Linked DNA regions of Homo sapiens. The protein of the gene in region 1 purifies or fractionates together with the protein of each later gene. This does not show direct contact. Each region holds a gene or a part of one and is shown in the gene's direction. Other genes may lie near its edges.

What was found. The genes of interacting proteins can lie anywhere in the genome.
Region 2: the proteins of TNS1 (region 1) and CTNNAL1 purify together in Homo sapiens (affinity purification with mass spectrometry; one large-scale study listed by BioGRID and IntAct). This does not show direct contact.
Region 3: the proteins of TNS1 (region 1) and DTNB purify together in Homo sapiens (affinity purification with mass spectrometry; one large-scale study listed by BioGRID and IntAct). This does not show direct contact.

Annotation. Positions count from the first base shown.
Region 1 is NC_000002.12:217,845,996-217,849,495, reverse strand, and holds part of TNS1 (tensin-1), read left to right. Parts: intron 1-408; coding exon 409-1,986; intron 1,987-3,500.
Region 2 is NC_000009.12:108,979,000-108,982,499, reverse strand, and holds part of CTNNAL1 (alpha-catulin), read left to right. Parts: intron 1-3,018; coding exon 3,019-3,219; intron 3,220-3,500. UniProt on the Homo sapiens protein: May modulate the Rho pathway signaling by providing a scaffold for the Lbc Rho guanine nucleotide exchange factor (ARHGEF1).
Region 3 is NC_000002.12:25,387,078-25,390,577, reverse strand, and holds part of DTNB (dystrobrevin beta), read left to right. Parts: intron 1-2,216; coding exon 2,217-2,376; intron 2,377-3,199; coding exon 3,200-3,289; intron 3,290-3,426; coding exon of another isoform or gene 3,427-3,479; exon of another isoform or gene 3,480-3,500.

The DNA of each region.
Region 1 (3,500 bases):
ATTTAATGAATATTGGCAATTTCAGATGGTTCAACCAGATTCTATTATTATCCCCATTTTATGGACCAGGAGGCTGGCTCAGAGAGTTATTCATGCCTCTGGTCAGGAAGCTGGTGAAATGCCAGAGCTAGGCTTGGGACTGGAGCGATTTGCCCCCAGCACTTCCTGCTCAGTGTTGGGCTCCACTGCCCGGCCCTGAAGCTGAGTGTTGGTGAGGCTCTGCCCCAAAGCCTGGGGTAGAGGTCTTTCTGTCAGCTCCCCTTTTCCCCACCTCAGGGTGGTGAGAGGAGGTTTTAGGATGCAGGGCATGGGAGCTCTTAGCTTCTTTCTCTGGCAGAGTGGATGATACCCCTGCCTCCCGCTAATGTCTGTTGTCTGTTGTCTCCCCTCCGGCTCTGTCCCTTGCAGAGGTGGTGGGACACACGCAGGGGCCACTAGATGGGAGCCTGTATGCTAAGGTGAAGAAGAAAGACTCCCTGCACGGCAGCACCGGGGCTGTTAATGCCACACGTCCTACACTGTCGGCCACCCCCAACCACGTGGAACACACGCTTTCTGTGAGCAGCGACTCGGGCAACTCCACAGCCTCCACCAAGACCGACAAGACCGACGAGCCTGTCCCCGGGGCCTCCAGTGCCACTGCTGCCTTGAGTCCCCAGGAGAAGCGGGAGCTGGACCGCCTGCTGAGTGGCTTTGGCTTAGAGCGAGAGAAGCAAGGCGCCATGTACCACACCCAGCACCTCAGGTCCCGCCCAGCAGGGGGCTCGGCTGTGCCCTCCTCTGGACGCCACGTTGTCCCAGCCCAGGTTCATGTCAATGGTGGGGCGTTAGCATCTGAGCGGGAGACAGACATCCTGGACGATGAATTGCCAAACCAGGATGGTCACAGTGCGGGCAGCATGGGCACACTCTCTTCTCTGGACGGGGTCACCAACACCAGTGAGGGGGGCTACCCAGAGGCCCTGTCCCCACTGACCAACGGTCTGGACAAGTCCTACCCCATGGAGCCTATGGTCAATGGAGGAGGCTACCCCTACGAGTCTGCCAGCCGGGCGGGGCCTGCCCATGCTGGCCACACGGCCCCCATGCGGCCCTCCTACTCTGCACAGGAGGGTTTAGCTGGCTACCAGAGGGAGGGGCCCCACCCAGCCTGGCCACAGCCAGTGACCACCTCCCACTATGCCCATGACCCCAGCGGTATGTTCCGCTCTCAATCCTTTTCGGAAGCTGAACCCCAGCTGCCCCCAGCTCCGGTCCGAGGGGGAAGCAGCCGGGAGGCTGTGCAAAGGGGACTGAATTCGTGGCAGCAGCAGCAGCAGCAGCAGCAGCAGCCTCGCCCACCTCCACGCCAGCAGGAAAGAGCCCACTTGGAGAGTCTTGTAGCCAGCAGGCCCAGCCCTCAGCCATTGGCAGAGACCCCCATCCCCAGTCTCCCTGAGTTCCCGCGAGCAGCCTCCCAGCAGGAGATTGAACAGTCCATCGAAACACTCAATATGCTGATGCTGGACCTGGAGCCAGCCTCCGCTGCTGCCCCACTACACAAGTCCCAGAGTGTCCCCGGGGCCTGGCCAGGGGCTTCTCCACTCTCCTCCCAGCCCCTCTCTGGATCCTCCCGTCAGTCCCATCCACTGACCCAGTCCAGATCTGGCTATATCCCCAGTGGGCATTCGTTGGGAACCCCTGAGCCAGCCCCACGGGCCTCTCTGGAGTCTGTCCCTCCTGGCAGGTCTTACTCACCTTATGACTATCAGCCATGTTTGGCTGGGCCTAACCAGGATTTCCATTCAAAGAGCCCAGCCTCTTCCTCCTTGCCTGCCTTCCTTCCGACCACCCACAGCCCTCCAGGGCCTCAGCAACCCCCAGCCTCTCTCCCTGGCCTCACTGCTCAGCCTCTGCTCTCACCAAAGGAAGCGACTTCAGACCCCTCCCGGACTCCAGAGGAGGAGCCATTGAATTTAGAAGGGCTGGTGGCCCACAGGGTAGCAGGTAAGAGGTATTCAGTCCTGACTCCTTCTACCCCTTCCTTATTTGGTCTTGCTGGGGGGAGGTGCAGGTCCAGCCATGACCCCTAAGCAGATGTTGCTTTCACTGGTGGGAGGAGGCTCTCAGGAGCCTATATGCTAGCCAGTTATCCCTTCCTGCATTCATTGTCTGATAGGCACCAAGCCAGACACCAAGTTTCAAAGTTCAATGTCAAGCAATTCCTGCCCTCAAGAAATTTACAGTCTAGTGAGCGGACAGATACACAGACAGATGATTTCATTAGAGAGTAATGTGTACGGTGACAGAGGTGGGACCAAGATCCCAGAGCCTGGGAAAGCAAAGCTTACCACCTAGGGCAGTCAGGGAAAGCTTCCAGGAGGTGGTGACTTTGGGGTTGGAGTACAGACTTTCTAGACACAGAGGAGACTCTGCAATTGCCTGTCGTGCTGTCTGTCCTCAGACTTTAGTTCCTTGGGGGAGACGTGGAGAAGGCTGGAGGGAGGCCTTTGTAGACTCAAATTCCCTCTTAGGTCCCGCTCCTAGAGGCCATGAAAGAGTCCGAGAGGGTATCCTCAAGCCCTTAGGCTCTATCTGCTGGGGCGGGGAGGCCAAGGTTCCCCTTCTAAGTCAGTTTTCCTGTTAGTCTTTGCTGAGGACCAGCCCTGTATGGGAAGTAGGTGCTGAGAGACAAAGCTCCTTTTCCTATCAGAGAGTGGGCTTCTCTTTTGGGAGAGAGGAAAGTGGGACACTCAGAAGAGCTTTTGGGGAGACAAAGGCAAGAAATGACAGCATGTCTGGGGCCATGTTGGGAGAGACAGCTGCGAGGTTCCCTTCCCACTGGTCTAAGCCTATGCCCATTCCACAAGGGTGGCTGAACTTGGCAGGAAAACCTGTTGGGTGACTTTATTCTGGAGGTGGAGCCCAGACAGGGGTGGACCAGAGACTGTGGATTTGGGTGGACCTTGTGCCAGCCCCTCAGCTGACAGGGTGGTGGGAGCTCAGCGAGGAGGAGAGGAGCCTGGGCAGCTGTCTCTGTCCTCCACCCCTTTTCCTAAATTTAGGGGAAGCTGAGTCACCATGCCAGCTGCAGGGAGGGAAGGAAACACCCTCCCTGGAGATGGACCGTGGGTTTAGGGAAGCAGCTTGGGGCAGGCCAGCTGGCTCAGGACCTGGTGTGGGGACACAGGCTCCCTGCTCCTATACTTCAGAGCAGAGCAGAGTCCCCAGCTCCACTATTGGTATAATAGCTTGAAATTGGCCATTGCAGGAGTATTTACACCATGGAAATTGGCAATCAGCCTCACCTCCCATAGAGAGCTGGCCTAGCAGTAACAATTCCTTTTACCTGAGCATCGGAACAAAGGATGGGCAGTTCTTAACCTCGGATGAAACGCTCCATGGGTGGTCCATATGGGCTTTGACTTCTGCCTTCTCCCACATCTGGGCCCCTGAGATAAAGATACCCCCCTGGCTTTGTCAGCAGAGATCCTTTTCTTCTTGGTTTTTTTGAGGTGAGA
Region 2 (3,500 bases), on another chromosome or scaffold:
TAGGATGATGGTGAGCAGCAAATCATTTCTGCTAGAATTCCTGCTTTTCTCTGTGTTAGAGGGTTGGTACTTTGAGACTATAGTAATAGTATTAGTAATAATTAAAATTTAAAAATCAACAGTAATACACACTAACAGTTATTGAGTCCTTATTCTGTGCCAGCCCTTTTCTGAGTGCTTTAAATATATGAACTTATATAATCCTCAAAGAACTATTGCTATTATTTCCATTACACTGTTGAGGAGCTTGAGAAACAGAAAGGATATTAACTTGCTGGCTACTAAGTACCAGAGTTGGGATTTGAAACTAGGCAGTGTGACTCCAGGAAGTCTGACTTCTCATCAGAAGTCATAGACATGGTGAAGATGCTTTCTGGGTAAGAGCAGTGTCTGAGTTGGGAGGGCCCTAAGAAGTCATCTAGTACAATGCCCTCCTTTAACAGATCAGAAAACTAAGGCCCTGAGAAGTTATCCAAATGCTAAAGGTTCCCACCTCTCTAACAGACAGGGCTATGATGAGAATGGCATTCTTTCCATTTTACTGCACTTTGATTTATTTTATTTATTTATTTTTGAGATGGAGTCTCACTCTTGTTTCTCGGGCTGGAGTGTGGTGGCACGATCTTGGCTCACTGCAACCTCCACCTCCTGGGTTCAAGCAATTGTCCTGCCTCAGCCTCCTGAGTAGCTTGGATTACAGGCACCCACCACCACAGCCGGCTAATTTTTGTACTTTTAATAGAGATGGGGTTTTGCCATGTTGGCCAGGCTGGTCTCGAACTCCGGACCTCAGGTGATCCGCCCACCTTGGCCTCCCAAAGTGCTGGGATTACAGGCGTGAACCACCACGCCTGGCCCTGGACTTTGATTTCTAATTGTGTGAAGGTCTAAGTAGGAACATGGGGTGAAAAGACAGTAATGGAAAGAATATCTCTTTTTGCTCTTAATAAATATTTTATTTAATCCCTACCTGCCCTTTAGGTGGATATAATTATATACTGTTTTTTTTTTTTTTGTTTTTTGTCTTTTTTTTTTGAGGAGGAGAGCTAGTAAGTGGTAGAACCCTTCTTTAGGCCCAGGATTCTCTAATCCCAAAGTCCATGACCTTTCACTTTACACCTCTGGGTTTGTTTATATGATGCCAGTCCTACCACTGAGTCTTCCTGAGGGGAAAGAAACTGTACAGACCAAACCTTCTCTTAGAAATTTTATTGCTGAAAGAGATCTTAGAGATTATTTTTCTAATCTTCCCTTTTTATAAATGCTGAAGGAGGAGATGTGTTGTCAAAGGATAATTAGGGAAACAAGTAAGTCAAGTGAGAGACATCTTTCACCACCTGCTGCTGCATTTCTAGTGCAGGTGAAGGAGGGGCAGTGCTCTGCCTGTGGCTGCTGCCGACAGCTCTGGCTGCTGCCCTCTCGCCATCAGGCATGCTGGAGGCAGAGCTGTTATAAATAGGCTCAGTCTCACTGTCCATGATTATCTCTTTGGCATCTTGCTTTTTTTCTGATGGAGAGTATAATCTATGGAGGGAAACTGGGTACTTTGCTGTATTTGGTACCATGAATATATGGACAAATGTTATGAAACCATATCAGTAAATAGCCTCTTTAAAAAAACCCCACAAAACTCCACTAAGTTGCTGTCTAAAAACATGTATATTTTCTCTCTAAAGGGAAAATAAAAAACCTTAACATAAATGGTATGAGACCAATATAACTGATTTTTATGTTTTAATTCTGTTTAAATTCTCAAATTTAATTCTCTTAAATTAATAAAATAAATTTAATTCTCTGAGAAGATCCCCATTGTAAATTCCATACCTTACTATTATCTGTATTCTTTCCTAGCTTAAATACAAGTTTCTGTCTACCTAGGATGGAGTGATCACCTGACACAACTTGGGCCAAGAGCAGGAGGGGAAGCAAGGACTCTCCTATGGCATCTTGACTTTCCCAAACTTTGATATTTTCATGGATGATGTTAAAATGGGTCACACATAAGGATTAATTAAAATAACATTTGTGAAAGGACTTTGAAGTGTTAAACAAATGTAAGGTATCCTTATTATCACATTCATTGTGACCATAATCATGATCATTACCGCTTGTTGCCTCTTGGCCCAAGTTGTCTGTGTGACATATTTCATGGACTGTAGTGTTTTACAGGGTTGAAATGGCATGATGCATCGTAGAAAGCTGAGAGAGAAAGACTGCACACATGAGCATGTGTTCATCACATAGTCAAGGAACTCCAAACAGGATGGCTGAAGTGAAAGGTTGTTAGGGGGTTCAGGGGGTGAGATAGACTGTTAGAGAAGTATATAAAGACAGGCCATAGAGGATTTTGTGCTATACTACATAGACGTTTGGGCTTGATTCTCTATAGATGGCGAGGAACTATTAGAGGGAGGTGGCAGTATCAGATGGTTTACATTTTAGATTATACAGACCCTCTGGTAGAGGATGTTTGGGTCAGTAAGGTGCTGTTGGGGACTTTAAACAAAATGTAGGGAGACCAGTTAGGTGACTAGGAGAGTCTTTGCTGAATTAACAAAGGAAAAATGGATGTCTTCCCCAGTGCTTCTCACACCCCACATCTTCCACACCATCCTTCCCCCTGGGCTCAGCACATTTCATATTTGGGTGTAACTTATCTTCCAGGACTTTGCCTAGGCATTTTCTCAGATGCAAATCTTTTACCTGGAGGCTGGTTCATTTTTCCTGCCAGTTGCTAGAGGATGATGCTCTTTCTGCCTTAGTATTCACTGATCTCATAGCAATGTCATTGTATTAATTACTCTAGGAATGGTGCTTTGCATGGATATTGAAGGCTTTTGAGCAATGTATCCTTCTGGGTTAGTGGCGAATATAGATATCATTGGTGGCTGTATTTCCCCTCAGCTTGGGAAAAGGAAATGCTAGTGTTTTCCTGGGCACTGTTAGAAATTACAGCCCATTTTGGTCAGGTGGGAATATTGACTCACATGGATGGATAGATGTCCTTTTTGTTCTCAGATGAATATTGAAGCTCTTCGGGAGAATCTTTATTTTCAGTCCAAAGAGAACCTTTCTGTGACATTGGAAGTCATCTTGGAGCGTATGGAGGACTTTACTGATTCTGCCTACACCAGCCATGAGCACAGAGAACGCATCTTGGAACTGTCAACTCAGGCGAGAATGGAACTGCAGCAGTTAATTTCTGTGTGGATTCAAGCTGTAAGAACTTTTTTTAAAATCAAAGTAAATCTTATATAATGGCTTTCCCATAAAGTTTTGCAAGATATGGAAGTTACATAATCACCAGGAGTATGAATTTGTTCCAGAATGGGACAGGATATCTCATCCCTTCTTTCCCTCCTAGTTGGCCAAAATATCCTTCCCATCTAGCACTTACAATACTTGACATTTATTTCCAGGCCTGTTGACTCTCATTCTAGCCAGTCTCAATTATATGCCTCTGTCACTATCACTAGTTCACACTGTTGTCCCTACTCTTC
Region 3 (3,500 bases), about 190 Mb from region 1:
CATCTACTTTGGAGGCTGAGGCAGGAGAATTGGTTGAACCCAGGGGACGGAGGTTGCACTGAGCCAAAATCGCACCACTTCACTCCAGCCTGGGTGAAAGAGTGAAACTCCATCTCAAAAAAAAAAAAGAGAAGACGAAAAGAAAAAGAAAAGAAAAAGTTTAAAATTTCAATGAAAGCCAGTTTATCTGTTTGGTTTTGTTTTTACATATCATGGTTTGGGTGTTTTCTTAGAGAAATTTTATAGTTTTAGCCCTTATAGTTACTATGATCCATTTTAGTTTTAGCTCTTATAGTTACTATGATCCATTTTGATTTAGTTCATATTTATTTGTATCATGGAAAGATCTCAGAAAGCATGCTAAGTGATTAAAGCAAATTGCAAAGTGATATGAGCAGTACAATACCATTCATGCAAAATTTAAAAGCGTGAAATACCATCTATTATTCATAGCTATACATGCACATATAGGTTAAAAGTTTCACAGCAGAATTTTGATAGGGGTTGCCTCTGAAGGGAGGAGAGGAAAGAACTGGAACAGGAAAGAACTGGTGGACAAAAATATTGCAAATTTTTCTGCAATATTTTTAGGTTGAAATACATTTGACACAATATGAAGTTACCAATTTGGGGTGGTTAATTATGTTGTACTTTTTAGTTTTCTGTATTTTTTTTAACTTCTCAAAATACACATACACACACACACACACACACACACACACACACACACAAATGATTCAAAGTAAGAACCACAGAAAACAATCCATTTCTGTTGAGTTTGGTGGCCACACGGTTGAAGCACTGCGGTGGGGTGTCGTGCGTCCAGCCTGTCCACCTGTTCAGGGCCAATTCTGTTTGTATATGGGGTTTCTAGCTGAGAAAGCTAGAAGAAGGATAACTGTCTTCATTTGAATTCACTCTCACACTTTGGCTTCTATTTTTTCCAGTTTTGCTTCCACAGAAAACCCTAGTCCACCTTCCACACTCAGTTCCCGTTGTGCTGAAGAGCTACAGAGCCCACATCTCAGTGAGCGGCCCTTGATTAGTTTTCTCCTTTTATTTATTTTATCCCATTGCTCCAAACTTTCTCCACAACTATACCAGGGCCTCCCAAGGAAAGCTTGGTTTCTGTTTACCATGTGTCCTTTCTCACCTCGTCCCCGCGGGGTGGCCCCGGACAGCCTTGCTGTACATGTGCAGTGCATGTGGCATGACTGGCCCCATGGCCCCGCTTGCAGCCTGCAGCCGAGCTCCGCACATGCTCAGAGCATGCCCTGCAGGAAGTGGGGTCACAACCTGCAGAGTGCACACTGCCACCCTTGGAGTCAAGGGGTTGTTCCCATGCCTCCCACTGGCAAGCTGTGTGGCCTGACACAACGTCTCTTTCCATTCTTCTTCTTCTATAAAATGGACATAAAAATATATACCCTGGCTTGGTATGGTGGCTCACACCTGTAATCCTAGCACTTTGGGAGGCGAAGGCGAGCAGATTGCATGAGCTCAGGAGTTAAAGACCAACCTGGACAACGTGTTGAAACCCCGTATCTACTAAAAATACAAAAAATTAGCCCAGCGTGGTGGCGCACACCTGTAGTCCCAGCTACTCGGGAGGCTGAAGCAGGAGAATCTCTTGAACCTGGGAGGCGGAGGTTACAGTGAGCTGAGATCGTGCCACTGCACTCCACCTGGGCAACAAAGCAAGACTCTGTCTCCAAAAAAGATATATACGTATATAAATATATACATACACACACACACACACACACACACACGTATGTCCTTTCCACTCACAGGTTGCCGGCAGCAGCGGGGGGAGGGGTCCAAATGAGAACATGTACATGAATGTGTTTGCAAACAAAATGAAAGCTGTTTGCATGTTACTTCCTGCCCTGCAAGCCAAGCCCTTCTAGAGCCCTGGCCCAGTCACGCAGCTCACTCTGTCTCCACCACTCTGTGCCAGCCTCTTCTTTCCCTCCCATTCTTGGTCTTGTTCTTAGGATGTTCTCTCTCTCTGCCCTGCACGCCCCCTTCCTTTTTTCCTTTTCTTCCTCTCTCCAGTCTTGGAAGCAGCCTAACTCCTTCCTTTCAAGTATGATCTTGTACCACTGAACTGAGGCCCACTGGCTGGCTCTGGTTGATGGAGAAAAAGTACTTTCTTCCTTCCTCAAAGAGGTCAGGTACTTGAGATAACGTATTTTCTGTCTTTGAATCTCCAGGCTCAGGCCACAGGGTCACCACATACATCGCCCACCCATGGAGGCGGCCGGCCAATGCCCATGCCAGTGCGCTCCACGTCTGCCGGCTCCACCCCCACCCACTGTCCGCAGGACTCGCTGAGCGGAGTCGGGGGAGACGTGCAGGAGGCCTTCGCACAAGGTGAGTTTCTGGAGCAGAGTTCAGCGGGGAGCTGAAGGGATGTGCAAACACGGACAAGATTCCTGCTGAGGTTTTTTCCATTTCTGTTTTGTGCTCTTTGCTTGGAATGATCAGATTTTGACAGACAGTGTAAATAAGTCAGGTGCTGGCCCCTTCTCATGAGACGGGCTGGTCTCCAGCGGGAGGGCTGCAGGCTTCCTATGTGTGCCAAGAACAGGCCTCCTGGGGTTCTCTGCCCTTTTTTCTGGATTATTGGAAGTGCTTTGTCCTTTGGGCTTTGTCTCCTCCAGAGGAATTGGATGGAATAATTCCCTGGCCTAGAAGGGACTGTAACAGGCACTGTAACTGGGACCGTGCTGAAAGCACAGTATGCACGCCATTGTCACAGTCATCGGGGGAGCTGGTGACCAGCAGTATTAAGTAGTTGGGTGGGGATTCAGAGGGAAGTCCTGCTGGGGCTGGAGGTGAGAAGGGGAGGTGGTAGTGGTGGTTGTGGAGAGTACAGCCCCACCCCCACAAGGCTGAGGAAGACCTCGGTGGAATGCTTATTCTGGAACCCAGCTCTGGATTGTGTGGTGGCGGCAAAGCGTGGAGTTGACAGGATGCTGCTCCCTAGGTAGAGAGGGCAGAGGGAGAGGGACCAGTGGGCTGGTGCCTCCTGCCCCCGGTGTGCCTGGGAATGGGTGGAGCTGCTGTGGCCCCATCTCCCCTTAGGTGTTCCACACCTGTGTTCTCGGGCCTGGCAGAACTGAGGCATTTGCTCAGCCGTCTCTTCTCCACGCTCACCCACCCTGGCATCCCCATCTGCTCTGCCTCTCCTCAGGTACGAGGAGAAACCTCCGCAATGACCTGCTGGTGGCAGCTGACTCCATCACCAACACCATGTCATCCCTGGTGAAGGAGCTCCATTCAGGTGAAACCCAGAGCTCCCAGCCAGCTTCCTGGCCTCCCCTGCCTTGCCCGCGCCCTTCTCACTTCCTTGCCAGCACCGGCAGAACCTCACCACCCAGCTTGCACCACCCCATTTCATCACCTAACTTTGCCTTCTAGGAACACACTGGATGTCTCCACCCAGAGAGCCTCTGTCACACAGGATCGCGTAGGGGCGGTTTCACATTCAGGCC